Linked DNA regions of Homo sapiens: all the other regions are linked to region 1. Evidence: fine-mapped expression QTL. A gene starts in region 1. Each other region holds a variant in brackets. All regions are shown on one strand. Distances are between the middles of the regions. Region 1 holds the start of HPGD (15-hydroxyprostaglandin dehydrogenase). Region 2 holds the start of MIR4276 (microRNA 4276). Region 3 has its middle 59 kb from the start of HPGD.

Region 1 (8,647 bases):
GTGCCGGTCACTGGTCTAAGCACTTGACTTGTATCTAACTTAGTATAGTCTTCACAACAACTTTATGAAATAGGTGCTGCTATTATCCTCATTTTACTGATGAGGAAGCTGAGATTCAGATAAATTAAGTAACTATCCAAAAGTCACAGAGCTAGTAGATGGTAGAGCTGGATTAAAACCCAAGCGGTCTGATTCCAGAGGCTGTATGTGTAGACAGTAAGAGATGGCTGCTTCTGAGTAAATGTTCAACACTCAACACTTGTAATTGCATTAAAGGAATAATCACCTCTCTTAACTTTGCATCATTGCGCTGCATTTGTTTTTAAGAGAACTTCGTTTGCAAAACTAAATCAAATACAGCTCTCTACATGCTAGGAAGCCATGTGTCAGTTAAAACATAGCCACTCTCCATGCCCTCAGGCCTTTGCCGTTTGATACCCGCTCCTCTTGAGTATCTTTGCCCTCCCACTTTCTTCAACTGTTTTCCTATGCAGCTATCAGATCTCTACCATGGAAATACCAATCACAGGATCATAAGGAGCTTACTCTCTCTGGATGTCTTCAAAGAGGGCTCTGTCTTTTTCTCTGGATCCCTTCCAGCTGACGCAGCACAGGGCCACCCAAAGTACACGCGCAATACACGCTGACCAAAGAAAAGTATATATAAATATGAGATATGTGTTCAAGAGAAGATGGAAAATTTTAATAGGATGGTGAGATTTCCCATATGTTGTGATTATCTTTTTATATAACAGAAATATATTGATAATGGGTTTTTGGAGAAGAATGTTCCCATATTTTATATTAAAAGTCTATTTTGAATTTAAAATATCTATAGAACATTATATGTGGTATATTATAAAACCAAAAAAGGGCTGCTTACCCAGTCAACATCTCCCCACTCCTCTGATTTTTATATGCATTTCTCAGCTTCTATGTTCAGGACATTACATCAGCTATATATTTCTGTCATCACAGTGATTTGTGTTATTAAAAACATAATTCTTAGCTAAAACAAAGTTAAATTTGAGATAAACCATCATCCATATAATTTTGTAAGAACATTCTTATTTATAGGCTATACAGGTGAGTGTCCCTTATCCAAAATGCTTAGGACTAGAAGTATTTCAGATTTCAGAATTTTGGGGGGATTTTGTATTTGCATGTACATAATGAGATACCTTGGGGCTGAGACCTAAGTCTAACCATAAAATTTATTTGTTTCACATACATATTATACATATAGCCTGAAAATAATCTTTTGCATTTTAATAATTTTGTACATGAAACCAAGTTTGTATCTAGTACTTACATGTGGAATTTTCCACTTGTCATGTTTCAGATTGTTGGAGCACTTTTTAACAAAAACTTTCATTTAAAAAAGATTATTGCTTAGGAGTGGGGGCCAGGGAGGCAGTGTATAATGACACTATCTTTGTTTTGCTAGATAAGTAAGTAATTTATGTCTATTTGGAGACTTTATGGCAATAAATGATCTAGTAGGTTAGCCAATTTGGTTGCCCTGATGGCTATCTACCAAAAAGATTTAATTTGCCCCGTGTTCTACATGATTTAGTCATCAGGGACATTTGGGAGGATTTTTTCTATTGGGAGATATATTAGGTTAGGCTGTGATAGAAAATAGAAACAAACATGCAAAGGCTCAACAGATAAGAAGTTTATATCTTGCTTACATCACAGTCCAGGAAGGCTCAGATTTTGGAGCAATTAGGATTTCAGATTTTTAGATCAGGGATGCTAAACCTGTGACTGACACACAGCTTCCTGGCATGTAAAGAAGGGCCACAAGAAAGACATGGGGCATGGAACACCTCAGATGTGATGCCCAGGAGTTTAGATATTTTAAGGATTTTAAACATGAGAATATCTAAACACGATCAGATCAGTTTTAGAAATTTTCCTAGGAGAAGTGCAGAAGGTAAATTGGATTTAAGAAATGTGGAGCAATTAAATGAAATAAGTCAGGTACAGAAAGATAAATATTGCATGTTCTTAGTCATATGTGAAAGCTAAAAAAAAACCTTATAGAAGTAGAGAGTAGAATTGTGGTTATCAGAGGCTGGGAAGGGTAAGGGGAGATGTGTATAGGGAGAGGCTGGTTTACGGATACGAAGAAACAGCTAGATTAGAGGATAAGTTCTAGTGTTTTCTAGAACACATGTAAGGTGAATATGGTTAACAATAATTTAGTGTATAGGTTCTAAAAGCCAGAAGAGAGGATTTTGAATGTACACAACACAAGCAATGATAAACATTTGAGTTAATAAATATGCTAATAATCAAATATCCTGATTTTGTCACTATACATTGTATACATGTATTGATATATCACTCCGTACATATATATCACTCTGTATATATAGATCACATAAATATGCACAGTTATTCCATGTCAACTAAAAAGGGAAAAAATCCTTCCTTACAAAGATCACTGTTTGGTAAGCAGTTTAATTCACTGTAATAAAAGCATCTCACAATGCGAAAAAAAGTGGGGGGCGTATTTGGAGGTAATGAGAAGCTAACTGCTGTTTGCTATCATAGGAGAAAATATGAATCTGGACAGTGGCAGTGGAAATTGAGAGGAGGGAAAGGGATGAAGGGGTACTAAGTTTTCTCTAGACCTCAGTCCTTGCTATCTACTAAAAAAACCTATTCTTCACATTTTTCTCTATCTCACATTTATTATTCATTAATATTTCAGAAGTAATATGTTGGGACTAATATTAATGTATTAATACTTTGTGGCAGGCTCTGTAATAGTGTTTAATATGCTTCACCTATTTTAATTTTCACCTTTTTTTTTTTTTTTAGAAAAGCTTACTTTATAATAAGGAATCTGAGACCCAGAGTTGAAGCAAATTGCCCAAGGTTACACAGCTGGTCAGTAGCAGACACAAGATCCAAACCCGGTTTGTCTGAATCCAGTGCTGACGTCCTTGTGCCTCACCTATCCGCCACCGCCAAACTGCTTCCTGTTCTTCCAGTTGTCACTATCCTTGACTCATTGCACTTTGACCTCAATCAATCTTCTTATCTTTTCTTAAAAGAAAAACATGTTTGCTGTCTAATCTTTTCAACTATTATCCAGTCCATTTCTCTTTCCATGTAACCTTGGTCTTCAGTCCATGACAATATCTATCTTCTCACAGATCATTTCAGCTGTTCAGTTTTTGTGCCTTCTAAATTTACTCACACTAAATATTGTCCTGAAAAATTCAAAATATTTCTCCATCCTTTATTCCCTGGTGCTCACCTGAGTATTTTGCATTATTAACTACTTCTTTCTTCTTGAAAGTATTTCTCCCACAAGAGCTGCAAACCTGTGTTCTCCCAGCATGTTGCCATTTTACCCCAGCAGTTCCTTTTCTGTCTTTTTTGCCAGTTCCTTCATCAGAAACTTCTATGTTCTGTGCATGCCATTAGAGGAGCTGAAGTTTTGTTTGGTTCCTTGTTTTCTTTTTGTCTTCTACTATTATTCCCTTTCAATATGACCCCTCAATTTACTCTTCATATTACAATTTTAATTATCATCCTAGAGTACAAATATCTATTTTCCTGTTTTAATTTCTCAAGATTTTGTCAAGACCTAATTTCAAATTAATGTTAAAGACATTTGCTTAGCGGCTTACCAACAACGCGACAAGACACATTTTACACAGTCTCCTCATACACTCCTTCCCTGCTGAGCCAGCCACCTTTCCCAGTAAAGAAGGTAAAGAAGATATAAAAATGATTCATTCTGCTGTTAGTGTCAGTCTTTTGCTCAACTCCCATTTCCCCCAAGTATTTAGATTTTTTTTTTCTTTAAGAAAATAAATGCCAGCTGGGCATAGTGGCTCATGCCTGTAATCTTAGCACTCTTTGGGAGTCCAAGGTGGGAGGGTCGCTTGAGCCCTGGAGATTGAGGTTGCAGCGAGCTGGGATTATGCCACTGCATTCTAGCCAAACAGACAGAGCGAGATCTTGTCTCAAGATTAAAAAAAAAAAAAAAAAAAAAAAGCCAACCACTTACGTTTACAGAATTAAAATTGCAGCCTGCCGCTGACAACCTGAGAAAAAGAGACAAAGTCAGTGGAATAGCCCTTGTTATTTATGCAAGTCCGCATACAGCTAGCCCTGGAGTTCCTGGAGAGCAAGGAACCTCTGTCCCAAACTTGACTCAGAGCTTCCAAAGTTGGTGTATTTCAACAAGTAAGCATTCCATTGAGCCAACAATTTGGTAGGCTACCAGCGGCTCTGGAGCGCCTGTTGATGATGACAGTTTTTGTGGGGGCATCTCAATATGACACACAATTGACACTGACCAGAAACACAGCGCCAAGGACACTCTAGTCCTAGCCATGAAATGTTATGATTCCAGGTTTTCAGGACAGAGCAGAGTCCACTTCTCATCTCCAGTATCCGTAAAAATTTGTCCAAAATGTAACTAAGAAAACACAATGATATTAGTTACTTCTGCTCCCCGTCACCCTCAACCCCACTGATTACGAGATGGGAACTCACACAAAACTTTGAGACAAAAGAGCAACAAGTTTGCTTTATTGTTTGCTTGTTTTGTTCCGGAGTCGGGGCCGGGAGGGAGTGCAGGAGGAGGGATCCAAGCTTCCAAGCCTCTGCTCCGCTCTCCTTCTATCCAGTTGGTCTTTAGGGCACTGAAGGAAACTCTTCTTCAGAAATAACCTTTTAACTTTTCTTCTGTCAGCTGCCTGCCAATCACGGAGCCAGAGGCTGAGGGGAGGCTTTGAGCCGGTCTGCGAGTCCGGAAGGCAAAGATCGCGAAGCTTGGCGCTCCAGAACGCTCAGGGGGCAGGTGACACAGTCGTGGGTTCCCCGGCGGGCGCTGGCTTGACAGTTTCCTCCCCGCCCACTGGCAGGGGAGCGCCCCGCCGGGCTGCACGCGCGCGCGCGCAGGGGGGCATAAAAGCCGCGGCCGCGCGGAGACGCGGAGCTCGCCCACCGCCCGCCCCAGCAGTGGCTGCACCATGCACGTGAACGGCAAAGTGGCGCTGGTGACCGGCGCGGCTCAGGGCATAGGCAGAGCCTTTGCAGAGGCGCTGCTGCTTAAGGGCGCCAAGGTAAGCCCGGCGCCCAGCCGCGGAAATTTCTCTGCCCACACACTCCGAGACTCGCCCCGCCGCCCGAGGTGCACTGGCGGAGACAGGGAGGCCGCGCCCGGCGTGCCCACTTTGCCACTTCCAAAATTTGCTGAAGCTGAGGCTGTGAGCACACCTCAGAAGTGGCTGGGAGGGAACCCAAACCTAATTGCCAAATTTCAGGTCCAGGAGGGGAGCCTCTTGTGTGTTTATTGTTTGTCCGTCTATTTCGTGAGCTGCGCAGGCCCGCGATTCCTCTCCTCTTGTCTATAGGTAGCGCTGGTGGATTGGAATCTTGAAGCAGGTGTACAGTGTAAAGCTGCCCTGGATGAGCAGTTTGAACCTCAGAAGACTCTGTTCATCCAGTGCGATGTGGCTGACCAGCAACAACTGAGAGGTAAGACAGGGGAATCAATCTGTCAACTGGGAACGTGCTCTCAACAAGCAACAACCTGAAGGCAGCCCGGCCAGGGGGCCCTGGGTGCCGCCTCCGCTGCCTCCTCGAGAGCAGCTACCTTGAAGCTCCAAAAGACAGTTTGGACTGATACGTTTCCTTCTGACAGCCCAATAGCTGTAAAACCGAAAGAAAGGCAAGACTGCTGGAGAAATCCTTTTATTGTAGTCATTTGGCAGCATTAATGTAATCAAAATTCCTTTATGTATTCAAAGACAGTGCTGCTGCAGTAATTATTAAATGATTGAAATTGCAGACAAAACTTGGAAAATTAAAGTAGGTTAAGTAAGGTACTGTTGACAAACAACTTCTCCCAGAAAGCTGGAGTCCAATGACAATCAAATGTGGCAGTGTTTTTCGTTTAAACATATCAGAATACAAGTTCAAGGAGCATCATCACAGAAGTGCTAGATGCTTTTGACCATATGTTTTCTCCGGCTTTTTCCCCAATGAGACAGTACTTTAAAATAATAATAATAGTAATCATAATAAAGTATACAATGTTAGAATTGTAGTAGAAACATCTCTATCAGCCTTTCCTCAATGCTTTCCTGTTTCCGGCTACTCACTTAAAATAGACCAATCTACTTGTGAAGTATCAGGGACAATATTGGCATACACAATAAACAGCTTTGATTATAAAGCTGTTTTTTTTTTTTTTGTACATCTATTGGAGAACTTGAGAGTGCCCCAATAAACTTACAGGAAACAAAAATTCTGGAGAAAAACTAGAAAAGTAAAATATTTGTATTTCACAAAGTTTTATTCAAAGAGACTGAGTAAATTGTAAGGCACTTTTTAATCAAGGGGTCTGAAAACTTTTGCAAATCTTATTCCAGTGCTCCTGTTCTTAAAGGGACATCAAATGTACATTTATTTTAAAATTTTAAAATATTCTGTAAGAGAATGAAAATGAACTGACGTGTTAGAAGGAAGTGGTGTACCAACAGTTAAGAGAAATTGTAAAGGAAATTACATAACTGAAATCTGAAAATGCTAATAAAGACCTATAACACAGATGACAAGCATGAGCAGAACAGATTTGTAAACACAATGCAAGAGGAACATATTGTACCAGAGGACAATTATGTTGATTGCACATGATATTTTGGATCAAGGATAGAGCCAGGTCAGATCTCAACATTCATGCTGATGGCATAAGGAACAGTATAAACAATCTGAAAGCCATTTCTGTCTCAATTTATATAGTTTCATAAATGACATTTAACTACAATTGTTTTTTTCCCAGTATTTAAAATTAATACCTTGGCTATAAACTCATTCCTTAAGGATAAATGATTGTGGAGGAGGAAAAATACTCAGACACATAAGTGACCCGGGAAGGCATGTTGGTCATGAGAAATCCACATGTTGTCTGGACATGAGCATTTGCTTGCATCTAAAGGAAACATGACATTGATTCTTCCAGTTTCAGGATTTAATGTTGCCTATAACTTTTAAAATTGTTTAGACAGTGTGGAAATTATAAAAATATGAGATGAAAAGTTTCTTGGAGATAATCTAAACATAACTTATTTTCCAAATGAACAAATCACAGCCAAGAGAGTTTAGGTAAGTTACAAAGAGTACCATAGCATATAAATGTCAGCAAGAGGTAGACTGTCTGTTGCTTGAGCCTGGAATTCAATGGGATGTCAGAAAACAAGATGGTATACTATACATTGGTAAGGGCAGAGTATAAGGAATACGGTGGAGAACAGAATGAGGAAAGAAAATTAAAGCGGCAATTAGACATACATATTTAACACCCTCATTTTCCAAAAGGTGAAGGTTGTTTCTGTGGAGTTATGAAGAGTTAGAACATACTCAGAATGGAAGGAGAAAAAAAAAATACTGGGGGACATTTTCTGGACCCAATTTGAGATTTTAAGAAACATTTTTAAGATTCCATGAAAAAAGGCCGGGTGCAGTGGCTTCACGCTTGTAATCCCAGCAGTTTGGGAGGCCGAGGCGGGCGGATCACGAGGTCAGGAGATCGAGACTTTCACTCGCGTCTGTGTGAAGAGACCACCAAACAGGCTTTGTGTGAGCAACAAGGCTGTTTATTTCACCTGGGTGCAGGCTGGCTGAGTCGGAAAAGAGAGTCAGCAAAGGGAAATAGGGGTGGGGCTATTTTATAAGATTTGGGTAGGTAAAGGAAAAAGGGGGGTTGCCCGCTGGTGGGCAGCAGTGGGGGTCACAAGGTGCTCAGTGGTGGAGCTTTTTGAGCCAGGATGAGCCAGGAGATGGAATTTCACAAGGTAATGTCATCAGTTAAGGCAAGGACCGGCCATTTTCACTTCTTTTGTGGTGGAATGTCATCAGTTAAGGCAGGAACAGGCCATTTAAGTATCACTACTTTTGTGATTCTTCAGTTACTTCAGGCCATGTGGATGTATATGTGCAGGTCACAGGGGATATAATGGCTTAGCTTGGGCTCAGAGGCCTGACAGAGATCATCCTGGCTAACACGGTGAAACCCCGTCTCTACTAAAAATACAAAAAATTAGCCGGGCGTGGTGGTGGGCGCCTGTAGTCCCAGCTACTCTGGAGGCTGAGGCAGGAGAATGGCGTGAACCCGGGAGGTGGAGCTTGCAGTGAGCTGAGATCAGGCCACTGCACTCCAGCCTGGGGGACAGAACGAGGCTCCGACTCAAAAAAAAAAAAATCCATGAAAAATAAACAGTTTGTGTTTGTTGTTCTTCCATTCCCGTACAGTGAGTGTAAAAGGTACATATTAGGAAATCTTGAAAATGTTTTTAGTAAACAACTAGCATAGTAATTTATCTATATGGCAACTGATTAATCCATGTCTTCCCCAATATGTCTGGTGGTTGTTAATGATTATATGAATTTATTTCAATCAAAATAAAGCTTATGCTGACCTACTTTTTTTAAGGACTTGATATGTTGGTCTGGACACCTGAGAATATATTTCCGTCATGTAGAAAAACAACCACAATTTTTATCCATAGTGTAAAATAATAGAAGTAGAATGAATGATCAAAGGCCCGGGGAAACAGTTTAAATCAATTAGAACTCTGTCAAAGGCTGCTTTGAGAAACAATAGACATGTGAT
Region 2 (8,647 bases), 100 kb after region 1:
TCAAGATTCTGGGCTCAAATGATCCTCCCACCCCAGCCTCCCAAAGTACTGGGATTGCAGGCATGAGCCACCACACCCAGCCTGTTTTGAAATTCTTTAAGTTTTCATATGAGCTGTCAAAAAGGTTTCTAGCTACCCATTGCTTTCAGACACAGTAGCTCTATTTACGTGGCCACTGCCAGCACATGAGTCACTGAGTCAGACTGTGACATGCCCACAGCATATCCCATTATTTAACTCATTGACTCAAGGAACACATAAGAAAAAATACACAGTCTACAAATTAATCACTTTAGCAAAATTGGCTTTACACATATTCCAGGATACGTGCATGATTAAGCAAGCTATATTTATGTCAGCAGAGAACTATAAATAGAATATTTATTTAGAGTCATCTTATCTAAGGAGATGTCTAATTTTTGTTGAATTTACACCTCAGATGTCAGACTCAACAGAAAAACAGGCAAGACATGCAGTTTTGTTTTATCTTCCTCCACCAGCCCCAATGCCAAATGTCACATGACACACACACATATACACACACACACACACACACGCAAAAAGGTTGTATTTCTCCGGTAGTCAGAATAGCAATAGCGAATTCAATGGTTCTATGAATGTCTGGATCATGTTTTGGAAAGAAGTAACACTTCTGCAGAAATTTTGTTTCCCTGTTTCTCTTAGATTCAAAGAGCTGGCAAACTGCCAAATCGGAAATTCTGCAAACTGGAAGTGCAAATTGTGTTATTTGTATTGTAATCTTTAACATGTGTCATTTCAATGATTCCCAAATCACACTATGAATCAAAATTAAAACTAAAAATGCAGGTTTTGATAAAATAGGATTCAATGGAAATGTAAAATTACATTTTAGCACAGTGTCCTCCATTGAATATGTTTCCTTCTTTCCCTCTTCCTCTTTTCAGTTTAGTCTCACACAGGTTTTAGATTTTATCTGAGGTTTGAGAGTAAAGTGTTGCATACCTTCCAAAAAGCTTTTGCCTTATTTCCAATTATTGCAATGCAATATTAGATAAGAATCCAAATAAGTGTGATTTATGGGTATTGTTACATTTATCTGGAAAAAAATGCAAACTTAAAAGTGTTTGACAGGGCTCACCACATGAGAAACATCTAGACCCTTCTAGCTTGTCAAAGAAATGGAAGACAATTGAAAGAGTTTGTAGTAAAGCGTGGAAAGGACCAATTTAATGATTTTGTTAAAAGAAATGAAAACAATTATGTCATTATAATATTACTGCTATAATATTATATGTTATATGTTGTTATAACAGAAAAAAGTCAACATCTTTCATCATTCATTTTTGAAATTAACTTCTGTCATACAATTGAACATTTGTTTTTGCTTCCTTTTTTTTCTCCAAATATTTGGGTTTAGTTGAGGTTCTGGAAAAAACTTAGTGTTTTACTTTAGACTAAATAAGCTTAAAATTCACTCAATATCAGCATAAAAACTTTTACCGGAACATTTTGCATAGGACCATATTCCTGTTTTCCATAAATTTAATCTACTAAAATCTAAGAGCCAGATCAGAATTCTTTTTTTGGCAGGCGAGCTTAGAGAAAAATTAAAACAATCAGATTGTTTTCTTGAGTCTCTATAAGCATACCTCCTCTGCACAGTGAATTGAAAATCCTTTTGCTTCCACATCTGATAAATAATACAATTAGTAACTCTAATAATTTTTATTTTTGATGGAATGAAAATGCAGTCATCACTTTGTGAATTTTTTTTTTTTTTTTTTTTGAGACATGGTCTTGCTCTGTCCCCCAGGCTGGAGTGCAGTGGCACGATCTCAGCCCACTGCAACCTCTGCCTCCTGGGTTCAAGCGATTCTCCTGTTTCAGCCTCCTGAGTAGCTGGGGCTACAGGCAGCTCCTGTGCCACGATGCTGGCTAATTTTTGTATTTTTAGTAGAGACAGGGTTTTACCATGTTGGCCAGGCTGGTCTCAAACTCCTGACCTCCAGTGTTCCACCCACCTCAGCCTCCCAAAGTGCTGGGATTACAGGCATGAGCCACCGTGCCCTTCTGCTTTGTGAAATAATTTAAGTGAATTCACATGCATGCAACTTCTCCCATGTGTGAAGCAAGTCAAACACAAGAAACATGATCTCCACATTCTGAACAGTAAATGGAATGTGAATATGGAATGAACAAATGTAATTAAACACTTATTCACTGGAAATGGACATATAATGACAAATATAAAAAGAAAAAATATGTAAGAATAATGTACCTGTACTCAAACTTGTCCTTCAGGCAATATTGTGAGAAATTTCTCCACTAAACCCAATGAGGAAACTGAAGAAAGTAAAATATTAGCATCCAATTTTCTTATGAGTTGATTCAATAAGCATTTACTAAATTCCATACAAAGTTTAAAATAACAATTCCTGCAGTCCTAGAGCTCTCATGGTACAGGAGAGAGAAATGTACACAGAAATTTACTGGTGTGGTGAGTACCACAACTTAGATGCTGACAGAGTACAGTGGGAACACAAAAGTGGAAATATGTAATCATGCACACAGACATCACAGAATATTTCATAAAGAAGGTAAATTTTCAGTTGAGTGACATATAATTACAAGGAACTCCCTAGACGGTTGCAGGGGAAAGTAGTTGCAAAGATATGGAAGGGAAAAAGAACATATCGTATTTTAGAAGATTTCTAAATGTTTTAGCACATGTGGAATATCTGGAGTATAAACAGAGAGGGAATAACTTTGCCCATTAAAATAAGGAATTAAGAAGCCACCATTATTTTTATTGTTTTTTGTTTTTTTGCTGTCAAATTAATTTTTCATCTTTGGAAATTTGAAAATGGGGAAAACATAGAGAAGAAAATTAAACCTACTTCAAATTCTGTCAGCAAAGAATTGTGTGGCTTGACTACATGCTTTATTCCACAGCCGTGCTTCTAACAGCCTTGCAGTGATACTGATCTGAGGCCATGGGCAGCAAATGAGACTGTCCCCCAAGTCAGCTGGGACCAACGATACTTCTCCCAACTGTCACCAAAATGTTCTCCACTTATTTTCCACAATGATGCATTCTTTTCTCAGTCTTGGTGCCTTCTGGATAATTAAATTTTCCCTAGATTTGGATGATATTTCCTTGATTTTATGGTATGTGATTGTTGTTTTCTACTCTTGGCACCAGTAAAGGTAGTTCTCTTTTTTATTATTATTATTTCCTATTGTTTTTCTCCTAGCGTATGACCACTTGTTGAAAAAGGGTTTTGCTCTTAAAGGAAGCTTTGCCAGAAATCCAGAGCACATTTTCTCCTTTAGTTCAGGATTATACATGTAAGTGGCACTGCTGGGTCAAGCAAGAAGTACTATTGAAAGGGTTTGGTATAGAGGCAAGTCGCTTTCTGAAAAAATGTCAATTTTCATGCCTATGATGGCATGTGAGATGCCATTTTCTAGCATGCTTACCGACAATGGGTGTTATCTTTTATTTTTGCAAA[G/C]AGTTGAGGGATTTTGAAGAATCATGGTGATAAAATCAGCATTTAACTTTCTTGCTGTCACTCTTCCCGCAGCGTAGAGGATACGCTGAGCATACAGGGTATGGTCTGGTTTGCAGGCCAAAAGATAAGGTAGGTGGTTTGTGAAATAATGTAGATGAGAAAACATAACCAAGGAAGTGGCAGGAAGAAGAAGAGAGATGGAAAAAAATTTGAGAGACAGGAAGGAAATATAAATATAGTAACCAAGAACACGTTGCTAAAGGGGGCAATAAAAATAATTCTGAAAATCGCTGGTCTCTACAAAGCACTGTACACATATTAGTTCATATAATTCTCACAAATTTAGAAGATAGGTGTTATTATTATGATTTTTCAGATTTGTAAAATAGGTTAAAGTAGACATTTAGAAAGTTGTATTATAATGATTGTACTCACTTGTATATAGGAAGCAAGATAATACATATAGCTATGCATTGAGTGTGAACTGCTTGTGAGACATAATCATATAGTTAAGTAGATTCAGGGAAATGTGGATTTGGAATTTAAGACAGAGAGAGGAATCATAAAATTTAAAACTTGACAGTCATTAGGATATCTGGTTCCCCCAATAAATCTAAGTCTTAAAGTAAGGCAAACCTTATTTATGAGTTTTATACATCAGATATATTATATGAATATAGCATGTCTCTTTCTCTCAAATAAGTAAACTGCCTTAAAAAAAGATAGTATCTAATCTACATACTATGTGAAGAGCAATACTATTTATGCAGGAAAAGGATAGGAGGGAGAAAGCAGAGAATAATACCACCAAGGACAGATGTTCGCAATATGTAAACTGAGTAAAGTTCCTTGAAGGAGTGAGATTTAAAAATATATATCTGGGGCCAGGCACAGTGGCTCACGCCTGTAATCCCCCAGCGTTTGGGAGGCCAAGGCAGGTGGATAACTTGAGCTCAGGAGTTCGAGTCCAGCTTGAGACTAGCTTGGGCAACACTGGGAAAGCCCATTTCTGCAAAAAATACAAAAATTAGCCAGGCATGGTGGCGTGTGTCTGTGGTCCCAGCTACTCTGGAGTCTGAGGTGGGAGGATTGCTTGAGCCAGGGAGGTGGAGGTTGCAGTGAGCCGATATCACACCACTGCACTCTAGCATGGGTGACAAGAGTGAGACCCTCTCTCAAAAAAAAAAATTACATATGCATAATATATAGACTTTATATTCTATATAAAAGACTATGTTATATATAGTATATAGACTTTATATTATATATATATAATATAAGACTACATATAGAGAGAGACTTTGTTAAGTTTAGAAGATGTGGTCAAAAAAGAAAAAGAAAGAAAGGCTCTCTTTATGCATAACGTGTCAGAATTTAGCTATTGTGTCTTCGCTTGCCAAAAGCAACATAGTGAATTGAATGCATTCACAAATTTAGGCCAAAGGTCATGGTTGATAAAAATCTGGGTTCCAGAGATGTTTACTTACTTTTTAATGAATCAGTGATCCTCATTAGGTCAATGACAATACAGTAAATTTTTCTTACCCAAAATCTTTAGCAATAGCTAAATCTTTAGCTTTTCCAGATCGGGATATTTCTTAGTAGTTATAGAAATGACAACTCACCCTCATTTGTGATTTATGATATAATTTAGCTTTTTTCAATCTTGCTACTATCTTTTATGATATTGCATCATTCTTTAGCACAGTTACTGAAATATGACGTAAAATATGCAGAAATATGCCAATCAGACCTTATTTTGTTATCAGTTAGCATCTCTTAAATAGAAAGATAGTACTAATGGCTAAAATTTGTAGATTCTTTTCATGTCTTTGAAAATAGCATGAAAATAAAAAATAAATTAACCAAATCTTAGTAATCAGAGATGCAGTAATTTAATGTTATCTTGGAAAATAAATTAACAATAATCTAATGGGTTATGTTCAAATTATTACCTAGATTTTATGTATGCTAAATTTTTACCAAATTTCTTCACTTCATATTTCCATGTGTTTTTGTTCTTATTTTAACTTAAAGAACTCTTTCTGATAATAGAAATTTTTAAAAAATCTGCACTTTTCTTACTTTCAAGCTTGCACGAGATCTATGTAAAATATTTTTTAAATGAATTGTAGGATTACAGTAACATTCCAAATATTAAGATGGTGTCCATCCAAGGGTATGTCTCCTACCATTTTCTCTAAGTTTTGTACATATTTTCTTTTCCTTTCATTCCTAATTCTTGTAAACCACTATAACACTCATGGTTTGAATACTACAGTGATGATTCCTGCCTCTTTCAAGTGGACGAGCAAATCAACAATATCAATAGGAGAAACAAATTTAAATATTCAAATAAATTGATATTTATTTTATACTTTTTGCTATGCTTACAAAAAGTACTAAATTATGAGTTACATCTGATATTCTAATGATATTTTCATTACATAAAATTCAGCAACCTTTAAAGGGTGGTTCCAAGATGGCCGAATAGGAACAGCTCCAGTTTACAGCTCCCAGTGTGAGCAACACAGAAGACAGGTGATTTCTGCATTTCCAACTGAGGTACCGGGTTCATCTCACTGGGGCTCGTCAGACAGTGGGGGCAGGACAGTGGGTAGAGCCCACTGAGCATGAGCCAAAGCAGGGCGAGGCATCACCTCACCCGGGAAGCGTAAGGGGTCAGGGAATTCCCTTTCCTAGCCAAGGGAAGGGGTGACAGATGGCACCTGGAAAATTGGGTCACTCCTACCCTAATACTGCACTTTTCCAATGGTCTTAGCAAATGGAACACCAAGAGATTATATCCTGCGCCTGGCTGGGAGGGTCCCATGCCCATGGAGCCTCGCTCATTGCTAGCACAGCAGTCTGAGATCGAACTGCAAGGTGGCAGCGAGGCTGGGGGAGGAGTGCCCACCATTGCTGAGGCTTGAGTAGGTAAACAAAGCGGCTGGGAAGCTCAAACTGGGTGGAGCCCACCGCAGCTCAAGGAGGCCTGCCTGCCCCTGTAGACTCCACCTCTGGGAGCAGGGCATAGCCGAACAAAAGGCAGCAGAAACCTCTGCAGACTTAAATGTCCTTGTCTGACAGCTTTGAAGAGAGTAGTGGTTCTCCCAGCACGGAGTTTGAGATCTGAGAATGAGCAGACTGCCTCCTCAAGTGGGTCCCTGACCCCCGAGTAGCCTAACTGGGAAGCACCCCCAGTAGGGGCAGACTGACACCTCACACAGCTGGGTACCCCTCTGAGATGAAGCTTCCAGAGGAACGATCAAGCAGCAACATCTGCTGTTCAGCAATATTCGCTGTTCTGCAGCCTCCACTGCTGATACCCAGGCAAACAGGGTCTCGAGTGGACCTCCAGCAAACTCCAACAGACCTGCAGCTGAGGGTCCTGACTGTTAGAAGGAAAACTAACAAACAGAAAGGATGTGACACCAAAACCCCATCTGTATGTCACCATCATCAAAGACCAAAGGTAGATAAAACACAAAGATGGGGAAAAAACAGAGCAGAAAAGCTGAAAATTCTAAAAATCAGAGCACCTCTCCCACTCCAAAGGAACGCAGCTCCTCGCCAGCAATGGAACAAAGCTGGACGGAGAATGACTTTGACGAGTTGAGAGAAGAAGGCTTCAGACGATCAAACTTCTCCCAGCTAAAGGAGGAAGTTCAAACCCATCACAAAGAAGCTAAAAACCTTGAAAAAAGATTAGACAAATGGCTAACTAGAATAACCAGTGTAGAGAAGTCCTTAAATGACCTGATGGAGCTGAAAACCACGGCACGAGAACTACGTGATGAATACACAAGCGTCAGTAGCCAATTTGATCAACTGGAAGAAAGGGTATCAGTGATTGAAGATCAAATGAATGCAGTGAAGTGAGAAGAGAAGTTTAGAGAAAAAGGAGTAAAAAGAAATGAATAAAGCCTCCAAGAAATATCGGACTATGTGAAAAGACCAAATCTACATCCGATTGGTGTACCTGAAAGTGATGGAGAGAATGGAACCAAGTTGGAAAACACTCTGCAGGATATTATCCAGGAGAACTTCCCCAACCTAGCAAGGCAGGCAAACATTCAGATTCAGGAAATACAGAGAACGCCACAAAGTTACTCCTCGAGAAGAGCAACTCCAAGACACATAATTGTCAGATTCACCAAATTTGAAATGAAGGAAAAAATGTTAAGGGCAGCCAGAAAGAAAGGTCGGGTTACCCACAAAAGGAAGCCCATCAGACTAACAGCAGGTCTCTCAGCAGAAACTCTACAAGCCAGAAGAGGGTGGGGGCCAATATTCAACATTCTTAGAGAAAAGAATTTTCAAACCAGAATTTCATATCCAGCCAAACTAAGCTTCATAAGTGAAAGAGAAATAAAATACTTTACAGACACGCAAATGCTGAGAGATTTTGGCACCACCAGGCCTGCCCTACAAGAGCTCCTGAAGGAAGCGTTAAACATGGAAAGGAACAACCAGTACCAGCCACTGCAAAAATATGACAAATTGTAAAGACATCAATGCTAGGAAGAAACTGCATCAACTAATGAGCAAAATAACCAGCCAACGTCATAATGACAGGATCAAATTCACATATAACAATATGAACCTTAAATGTAAATGGGCTAAATGCTCCAGTTAAAAGACACACACTGGCAAATTGGATAAATAGTCAAGACCCGTCAGTGTGCTGTATTCAGGAGACCCATCTCACATGCAGAGACACACATATGCTCAAAAAAAAGGGATTCAGGAAGATCTACCAAGCAAATGGAAAACAAAAAAAAGGCAGGGGTTGCAATCCTAGTCTCTGATAAAGCAGACTTGAAACCAACAAAGATCAAAAGAGACAAAGAAGGCATTACATAATGGTAAAGGGATCAATTCAACAACAAGAGCTAACTATCCTAAATATATATGCACCCAATACAGGAGCACCCAGATTCATAAAGCAATTCCTTAGAGATCTACAAAGAGACTTAGACTCTCACACAATAATAATGGGAGACTTTAACACCCCACTGTCCACATTAGACAGATCAACGAGACAGAAAGTTAACAAGGATATCCAGGAATTAGTCTCAGCTCTGCACCAAGCAGACCTAATAGAAATCTACAGAACTCTCCACCCCAAATAACAGAATACACATTCTTCT
Region 3 (8,647 bases), 59 kb before region 1:
ATCTAGGTGTATCACTCAGGGTTCAGTCAAGAGAGAGAAATCTCATAAGTTATTTAAAGAGAAAATAATATACAGAATTTTAAACTACATATATATTTATTAACAAGGTCACAAAAGGATAAAAGGGGAATTGAAAGGGACCATGATGAGTAGCAATTACAGGAAATAGCTAATTAGGGCTGGGGAAACAAAGAAGAGGCTGATGTTATTAAAACCTAGAAACTTGGAGCAACCTCATGAAGGTTAAGTTCGGACTTCTGAGTTAGAAGTGCTTGCAGCTCAACTGATGGTGGTGCATGGGAGCTTGGAGAAGGGCTCCTTGGGCCTGACTCCCCAACTTTTTTTTTTTTTTTATTATGACACCTCAACTTTTGCTGACAGGCTGCCTGCTGCCTGGTGCCAAAATCTGTCGGATGAGATGTGATGGAGCTAGTCTAGCAAGTGTTGGGGAAGCTGCAAACTGGATTCAGCTGCTGCTATAAGGAGGCAGGAGTGTTGTGTCACTAGGGTGAAAAGGGCCATTAGGATGACACTCACAAGAAAAGCAAGTGTTGACTTTACATAGAACTGATGTAGGCTGGGCTGACAATAGGGTCAGAATTGCATTTAGAAAGTAGTTTGGTTTCCTGCTACACACAAAATAAATGAAAAGTCAAGGCCACAAAGTTCTAGAACATAACTCATATTGACATGGTTTTGGCCCAGATTTTCAGACACAGAGTTACCAGTCCACCATCATGGTGAAAAAGACATTATTTTTTCAGTACTAGAAAAGATTCTCATTAAATATCTGATTTTGAGTAAGGCATATTCAGATTGAATATTTCAATTGGCTTAGACATTCATGAAAATGGAAAGCCACTTAAAAGGCATGATTATCAGAGAAACAAAAGTGCAAATAATAAAATACCATCTTTACATGTAAAAGCATTGAGATTTAGAAAGCAATATTCAATCTAGTAGCGTCTGATAATAGTGGCACTCATACATTACTAATAGAATCTAGGGAATAAACTGTAAATTTCTTTCAAGAAGAGCAAAATGTTCAAACTTTGATCTTTGATTCAGTCAGTGCAGATTTACATTCTAATAAAAGGAGCTTTATACATTGATTTATATATAAAGAAATTTATTGATATACTTATTATAATAAAATGGGCAATATGTAAATACGCAATAGTAGAGACAAAATAAAATATGTGATGTTGTAACTATATGATAGACTTTTATTCAGCCATTAAAACATATTTGCCATGTTCTCAAAGACTATTGATTAATTCTGATATATACTAAATTTTAAAGTAGGATAAACTGCAAATACACAATATTATCTCATTAGTAGAAAAAAATATGCACTGTGGATGTAGAAACTAGAAAATATACATCAAAATTTAAAATAAGTTACCCATGATTTTTCACCAATTATTGGTGTTTTCAATCTGTTCATATATGTTTATATTTTTCAGTTTGCTACAGTAGACATTTACCATTTTAATGATCATATCTATTTTAAGAGTTATTACAGATTGCTTTTGAAATATGTTTATACTGTTCAAAAATGAGTGTTTTGATATCATTGATAATAACAGCTAGCACAGAAGCCTTGGCTTAATAATTTTCATCCCATCATAAAAAAAATAGGATACCCACATAAGCATGGCAAAATTAATAGAAAAGGAAGATCCTCAAACTTTAAAGAGAAAATAGTATAGCTCATATTCAACTGATATACCATTACTATCACATTATGTGATAGTATCATGTGATATCAGTTGAATATGAGCTATACTATGAGGTATATCAAAAAACAATACTTTCAGACCTCCACAGTTTGCTTAATATTCCTTTTATAATATCAAGATTTAAAACAAATTATGGTTAATGTGCTACCCATCAGAAACTGGTTATAAGCTCTTATGCTATTCATGGTGTACAGCTTTGTGATAAATATACAACATATTTTGTTGTCTTACTCTCAGTTGAGGGTCCATTGCATAGAATAAAGGATTGTTAAGAACCCATATAATCTAAAAAGAAGTTCCAGCATCTATGTGGAACTTGCTAATGAGGTTTTTTTTTTTGTTTTTTTTTTTTTTTTTTGAGACGGAGTCTTGCTCTGTCACCAGGCTGGAGTGCAGTGGCGCCATCTGGGTTCACTGCAACCTCTGCCTCCCAGGTTCAAGCAATTCTCCTGCCTCAGCTTCCTGAGTACCTGGGATTACAGGAGCCTGCCACACCACGCCCGGCTAGTTTTTGTATTTCTAGTAGAGATGGGCTTTCACCATGTTGGCCAGGATGGTCTCTATCTCTTGACCTCGTGATCCACCCGCCTCAGCCTCCGAAAGTGCTGGGATTACAGGCATGAGCCTCCGTGCCCGGCCCCATGAAACTTTTAAAAAATTATCTCGGCCGGGGGCGGCGGCTCAAGCCTGTAATCCCAGCACTTTGGGAGGCCGAGACGGGCGAATCACGAGGTCAAGAGATAGAGACCATCTTGGAGACTTCCTTTCCTACCCCCGGGCCCAAGGTCAAAGATAAGCAAAGCTAGACCCTAGTTAAAATGGTAAGGACAGATTTTCATCAGTAATAACTATGTCAATAGAAAAAACGGTCCAAAGTGAACTGAACTCCAATTTGTACAGAGATGAGCAAGTGTTTTAAAGGGAGGGTGAGGGAGTAAGGAGAGGGAACTAGAGGCTTAGCAGAGTCATGGAAGTGAAAAATTACAGAGGGTTAGTTAGTGTAAATGTCATTAGACCAGCTGTGTCCACTAACTGACAATTATCAAAGATAGGACCCTGTTCTCCCCAAGAGACTCAGAGACAGAGGCCCTTTTCTCAGGTGTTGCCTGGAACGAATAATACATTTCTTCGGCAGCCTTGAGTTTTCTCAGACAGGCACTTTAAGGGGGGCAAAGGTTATTTTGCAGATGCGACTTTGAGTTTCTAGAAACTACATGAGTGTTGTTTAAGTCTTAATAGGCCAAGGCTGAAGTCTAGTTAAGAAGAGGGCTCAGAGAAGCCTGGCTATAATCTGTATAAAAGAGAGAGTCTTTGTCTCAGCATTAAAAAACAAACAGTAACTGAGGTGATAGAAGTGTTAAGTATCTTGATTGTGGTAATCATGTCACTATCATCTATCTGTCTGTCTATCTATCTACCTAATCATCAATCTATCTATCTAATCCTCACATTGTACACCACAAATTTATACCACGTTGTCAATCAGACCTCAATAAAGCTGGGGAAAAAAGGAATGAGTCTTTGTCACCAAATCCCCAAGCTAAGTGAAAGCAATGAATGGAGGATGGCCTGGTGAGCTCTGGATTAGAGAAATGCAGGGTCTGCTACCCGATGCATGGTCGAGAAGTCTAGAGGCAAGGATTGCATTATAAGAGAAATATCAGCATTTGGAATCTGCCATGTCAGAGGGCTCCAGTAGGAGATAATAACTGCGCCAGTCAGGTAAGAAGTTTTGTGCCCCGTATCACTTCCCCATTAATCAATCTCCACTCTCACACCCAACC[A/G]TTAATCAGAGGTTGCATAGTAAACACAGGGGAAGTGGAAGAAACAGATGAAGAAAGAGTGCATAAACAAAACCTACTTCTTACTGCAGATTTTCCAGAAGCAGGACTGAGGTAGGGAAAGAGAGATTTAAATCTGATCAGATATTAGCCGGGCATGGTGGTGGGTGCCTGTGATTCCAGCAGCTTGGGTGGCTGAGGCAAGAGGATCACTTGAGCCTGGCGGGTGGAGGTTGCAATGAGCTGTGATCGTGCCACTGCACTTTAGCCGGGGCAACAGAGCAAGATCTGTCTTAAATTAAGAAAAAGAAAGAAATCTGATCACATATGGATCATTTTCTATTAGGCTGCTCTTTCTATGCTGGAAACTGATGCTACTCATTAATTCCAGAAAGTAGCTGACAAAGCTGTGGAATCCTCATCCATGGATAGAAAAGAACAATTTGGCACATTAAGTCAAAAGGAGCATTTAGGGAGAAGGAACAAAGTTACTTTACGTTTGTGCCTATTGAAATCCTGCTGATGCAATAAACTGGTTGCATAAGCATTGTACACAACAACAAAAGCATTCCAAATAAGGGAAAAAATAAAAAGAGAAAAAAGGCTTATACTACAAATAATTAGACAGATTTTATTCCAAAGGCCCCCTTTTTTTTTTTATTTTTTTGGAAAATGCAACAGAAGATTTCATCAAGGGAGGCATATATTTTGAGAAAATGTCTTCTGGTTTTTAAAAATACTTGTGTATAATACCGCAGTTGCTATTAAACTTATACCCTATATAAATGTGATGGAAGATGAGGCTCAGCCATTAAAAACAAGTTTCAGGAACAAACTACAATCTATTTACACAAAAATAAAGCACGTAGACATCTGATTTTCACAGCCCAGGGGAATTTGATGTTGGATAACTGAACAGACCTGCCAGTGTTTATTATTTCCATCTATAGATTGAAGGGCATATAAATTATTTCAGTGCAGTAAAAATCCACTGTCAGGAGTATGAATGTTGAATAGGAAAGAGGAGAATGTTTTTCCAGTTTTCCAGAGGAGAAGACTTAGGTGATCCCAGAACCACTGAAGCTTGAGAAGGAGAGAGGCTGCAATTCCAACAACTCTCTTAGTGGAAAGGGGCAGCAAATCACGACTCTTGGAAGCAGCAGAGGGAGGGAGCATGTATCTCTGAAAAAGCGGCCTAGTGTCCTTTCTGGAATTAAAGCCTGGGGCCTCTGAGCCCTTTATATACAAGAATAGGAGTGTGTTGGACCATAAGACATGAAACGTCTGGATGAGACATTTAAGTAAGGTAGCGGTAACAGGAGTCATAGAGTGATAGTAATATTAATAATAAACATTATTAAGCAATGCACTAAAGACCATATAAACATCATCTTCTTAGCATAATCATGAGAGACAGATATGATCTCCATTTGACAGATAGGAAACTGAGCCTTACAGAGTATAACTGAATTAAATTTCCAACATCACATGGCTAGTAAGTTGTGGATCATGGATTTTGGCCTGTGCTGTCTTGTACCAAAATTCATACTCTTTATACATGGTACTGCTCATTATTGCATTCATTTATTTCACTCAGTCAACAAATAAAACTGATTACTTACCTAAAACTTTTCTGTTTGTTTCTGTCATAGGGAGTAAGAGGAGTATTTGGGGAAAATGAAAGTATAGTTATGAAGTTCCTAAGAAAAGCTAAAAAGGGAGTTACTGATTATACTTCACACTACCCTCCTTAGGGATGGGTTTGCACTCACTTGACCTCTCCTCCTCCTCCCTGCACCACCCACAGTGTGTCCTCATTAGCCACATGATCTAACTGTCTGTAATATTTCTTATCATATTAGTCAGCTGCAGTTTGCTTATGTTTCCTGCATGGGATTCAATGAAGATATTCTAAGATTATCATTCAGATATTCCTCTAGGAAATAAACGTTCAAGCAGATATGTACATGGTGGTGATGTTGTGAACGCACAATTGATGCACTTCTGGATCTTTGATCAACTAATTTAGGAAGGACGCGGTAAGCTGTGAAAGTAATGGCAGGGATGGAAGAGAAAGGAAGAAAGGAAGAAACTAGTATCTTTTGAAAGTTTCTTGTACCCAGAAAAGTGGTAAGTGCCTTACACTTCATATAATCTAACCATAATTCTAGGCTCCAGATAACAATATCATCTTTAGCCTCAGAGTTAATGGAGGCTCAGAGAGTAACATGCTTAAGTTCACACAGCCAGTAAGTGGAGCAGCCTGGGTACAAAGCTAAGTCTGTCGGACTCCAAAGCATTCTTTCCACCACATGAAAGAACATGTGTTCCAAAGGAGTTGTACTCAAGTTTACAGATGATCAGGAAAGGGTCATGGAGAGCATAAAACATTAGGGGTCTATTTCTAAGTTTAAAAATAATAGTAAAGTCTAGGGGATTTTAGGAAGAACCCACAGGAGACCAGGAATTTGTCTTCAACCAGACAAGGGGCCAAACCCCTGTATCAGGAACAATGACACTTTGAGTTACATAATTATTATTATTGTTTGTGATAATGATAAGTATAGCTGAATCTCAGTGGTAACTTCTCACTTTCCTGTTCTGAGATAAAGGAACCCCTCAGCCATATAGCTAGACACTAATGTCACTTCTTTATAATATAATGCTTTAAGTTTATCTGCATCCTAGACAAAACGGAATCCAAAGGCACAGGAACCAGGCAAGGGACGGGCAAGGGATTACTGGTCCAGATAATCCTAAGGGTTAGAAAACATGACACATGAAGCTAATGGCATACAAAGAGGAAACATTTAACTTTTAAAGCAAAGCCAAATCCCAGCCAACTGCTAGGAAGATGGACAAACAATACATATTAGAGATAGCCTACCAGAGAGGCAATGTTTAACAGTGAGTAAGACAGAAAAGACTTGAGTAAAATGCCCTGAGCCTGTTGAACAGTTATTCTCAACAAAGCTAACACATGCATCTCAGTGTATTTTCCCAGAAAGGTCATTTTTGTTTTCTCACCCCCAGTTGCGACAGGAAGAATGCCAAGACCCTCTGTTCCTGAGCACAGGCATGGGAGCTCTTTACAGCCGTTGACCTCAAATGTGTCACCATGGCTCACCAGTTAAAATCAGTTGTCATGTGAATCACAAATCATATTCTATAACTAAAAACAAAGTACCGTTTGTTAATAATTGTTTAAACAAACTGTTTATTGATGTATAATATACACAAAAATGTGTACAAACAAAAAAGGTGTACAGCATGATGATTTTCCAAAACAAACACACCCACGCAACCAATATCCAAGTCAAGAAATGAAACATTATCAAAACTCTCACTATGCCTCCTCTCAATTACTATTTTCCTCTTGGTAACCAGTTTCTTGATTTCTAACACTGTGGATTGATTGTCTTTAAACTTTATACAAATGAAACCATATGAAATGTACTATTTTGTGTCTGCCTTTTTTCAGTCAACATTATGTTTCAGGGTGATATGAATCTATTGAGTATAGATGCAGTTTTCTCTTCTTTATTGCTATTTGATCTTCTATCATATGATTACACCACAATTTATTGATTGATTACATTATCAATGAACTTTTTAACATGAACATCTTTTTAAACAGTTGTAATGCATAGAGTGCTGCAGTATGCATCCTTGTACATGACTTTTAGTACACCTTTAGAGAGGAATTGCTGAGTTCTAAGATTTACTGTGTTCCACTTTAAGCAACACTACCAGATAGTTCTGCAAAATGACGTTGTACCAATTGTCACTCCACCGAGTAATCTTTGAAAGTTCCAGTTGTTCCACATTGCCGCTGATACTTGGTGTTGCTCATTATTTCAATCTCATACTTTCTGGCTAGCGTTACCAGATGTAAAATACAGGATGTCTACTTACATGAGAAATATTTGGGATATACTTATGCTAAAAATTATTCATTTTATGTCTAAAATTCAAATATATGTAGGAGTCCTGTGTTTTTATTTGCTAAATTTGGCAACTCCATTCTGGCACATTTGCAGTGGTATTGCTCACTGTGGTTTTCATCTGCATTTCCCTGATGATTAATAGATTGAACATCTTTCCATAAGCATTTTGACCATTTAGATGCCCTCTTTTGTGATCTTCCTGTGCAAGTCTTTGTCTGTTTTCTTGTTAGAGGTGTTAGCTTTTGCTTATTTATTTTTAGAAGTACTTTCAATATTCTTTATTTCTATTCTTTGTCAAATAAATAAGCTGCAAATATTTTCTCCCAATATGTCTCTTATCTGTCCAAGCCCATGATGATATCTTTTGATAAACAATTTGTGGTTTTATTCCAGTCCAATTTTTTAACATTTTCCTTTGCAGATAGTTACGGTATGCCTGGTTTAAGAATTATTTTTCTCTCCTGGAAACAATTCTGTTTTGAACTGGGCAACAGAAGGCTTTGGAAGGAGGAACTCTTGTTGGGGGTTGGGGAAGGAAATGTAACTAACAGATAATTCAATGTGTTTGAACTTTCAGTACATTTATTGATATGTATTTGACACATCAGAAGGCACATTTAAGAAAATATTAGAGATTGGCATGTTGACAACTAAACACCAGATGAAGTGAGAAATTATTAACTCCAGAACATACAAAATGTTGTATGAGAATGGAAAACTAACATGAAGGTCTATATAACAGGTCTAAAATGTTAATATCACAAGAGGGAGTCTCTCTCTCTCTACATACACACACACACATACACACACACACACACGATAAATCAAGTAATAATAGTAGCAGCATAACATGTATGAATACAAAAGGAAATGTCTTAAAAATAGCTAAAAGGTTTGACAGTATATTCCTCTGAGGAAGGACTTGGGTGCAGAGAATATTAGGGCAAGGGATTACACTTTATTATTCTTCAGTTTTAAATTACTCCCATATGTCACTTTGACTAAATGAGATTAAGTTAATATTTAAAAGAGAAAGCCCTAATGGTTCTCAAAATTTATATAGCATTTCTTATTTTTAAAAAGCTTTTAAATATAATCTTAGCTATTTCCTTTTCCTTAAATACTACTGCACAGCATTATACCTGTTCACCTTGATTAAACAAAACTTTTTTTCTAG

Evidence for each region.
Region 2: its variant is fine-mapped to the expression of HPGD in whole blood (INTERVAL, PIP above 0.99). The same link has a PIP of 0.9 or more in blood mononuclear cells.
Region 3: its variant is fine-mapped to the expression of HPGD in whole blood (TOPMed, PIP above 0.99).

Annotation. Positions count from the first base shown.
Region 1 is chr4:174,518,808-174,527,454 of GRCh38, reverse strand. HPGD (15-hydroxyprostaglandin dehydrogenase) reads left to right here and starts at 4,967. Exons shown (of 7, transcript NM_000860.6): 1 at 4,967-5,096; 2 at 5,388-5,511. The coding sequence starts at 5,004. LOC105377548 (a long non-coding RNA gene) reads right to left here and starts at 4,842. Exons shown (of 7, transcript XR_007058492.1): 1 at 4,326-4,842; 2 at 4,034-4,070; 3 at 547-643. RefSeq lists an enhancer at 7,628-8,157.
Region 2 is chr4:174,415,356-174,424,002 of GRCh38, reverse strand. It overlaps MIR4276 (microRNA 4276), which reads right to left and starts at 208; the gene lies at 139-208. The variant G/C (reference allele first, on the strand shown) is at 3,495.
Region 3 is chr4:174,577,499-174,586,145 of GRCh38, reverse strand. No RefSeq gene overlaps it. Among named protein-coding and RNA genes, the nearest start is that of HPGD, 59 kb to the right of the region's middle. The variant A/G (reference allele first, on the strand shown) is at 3,527.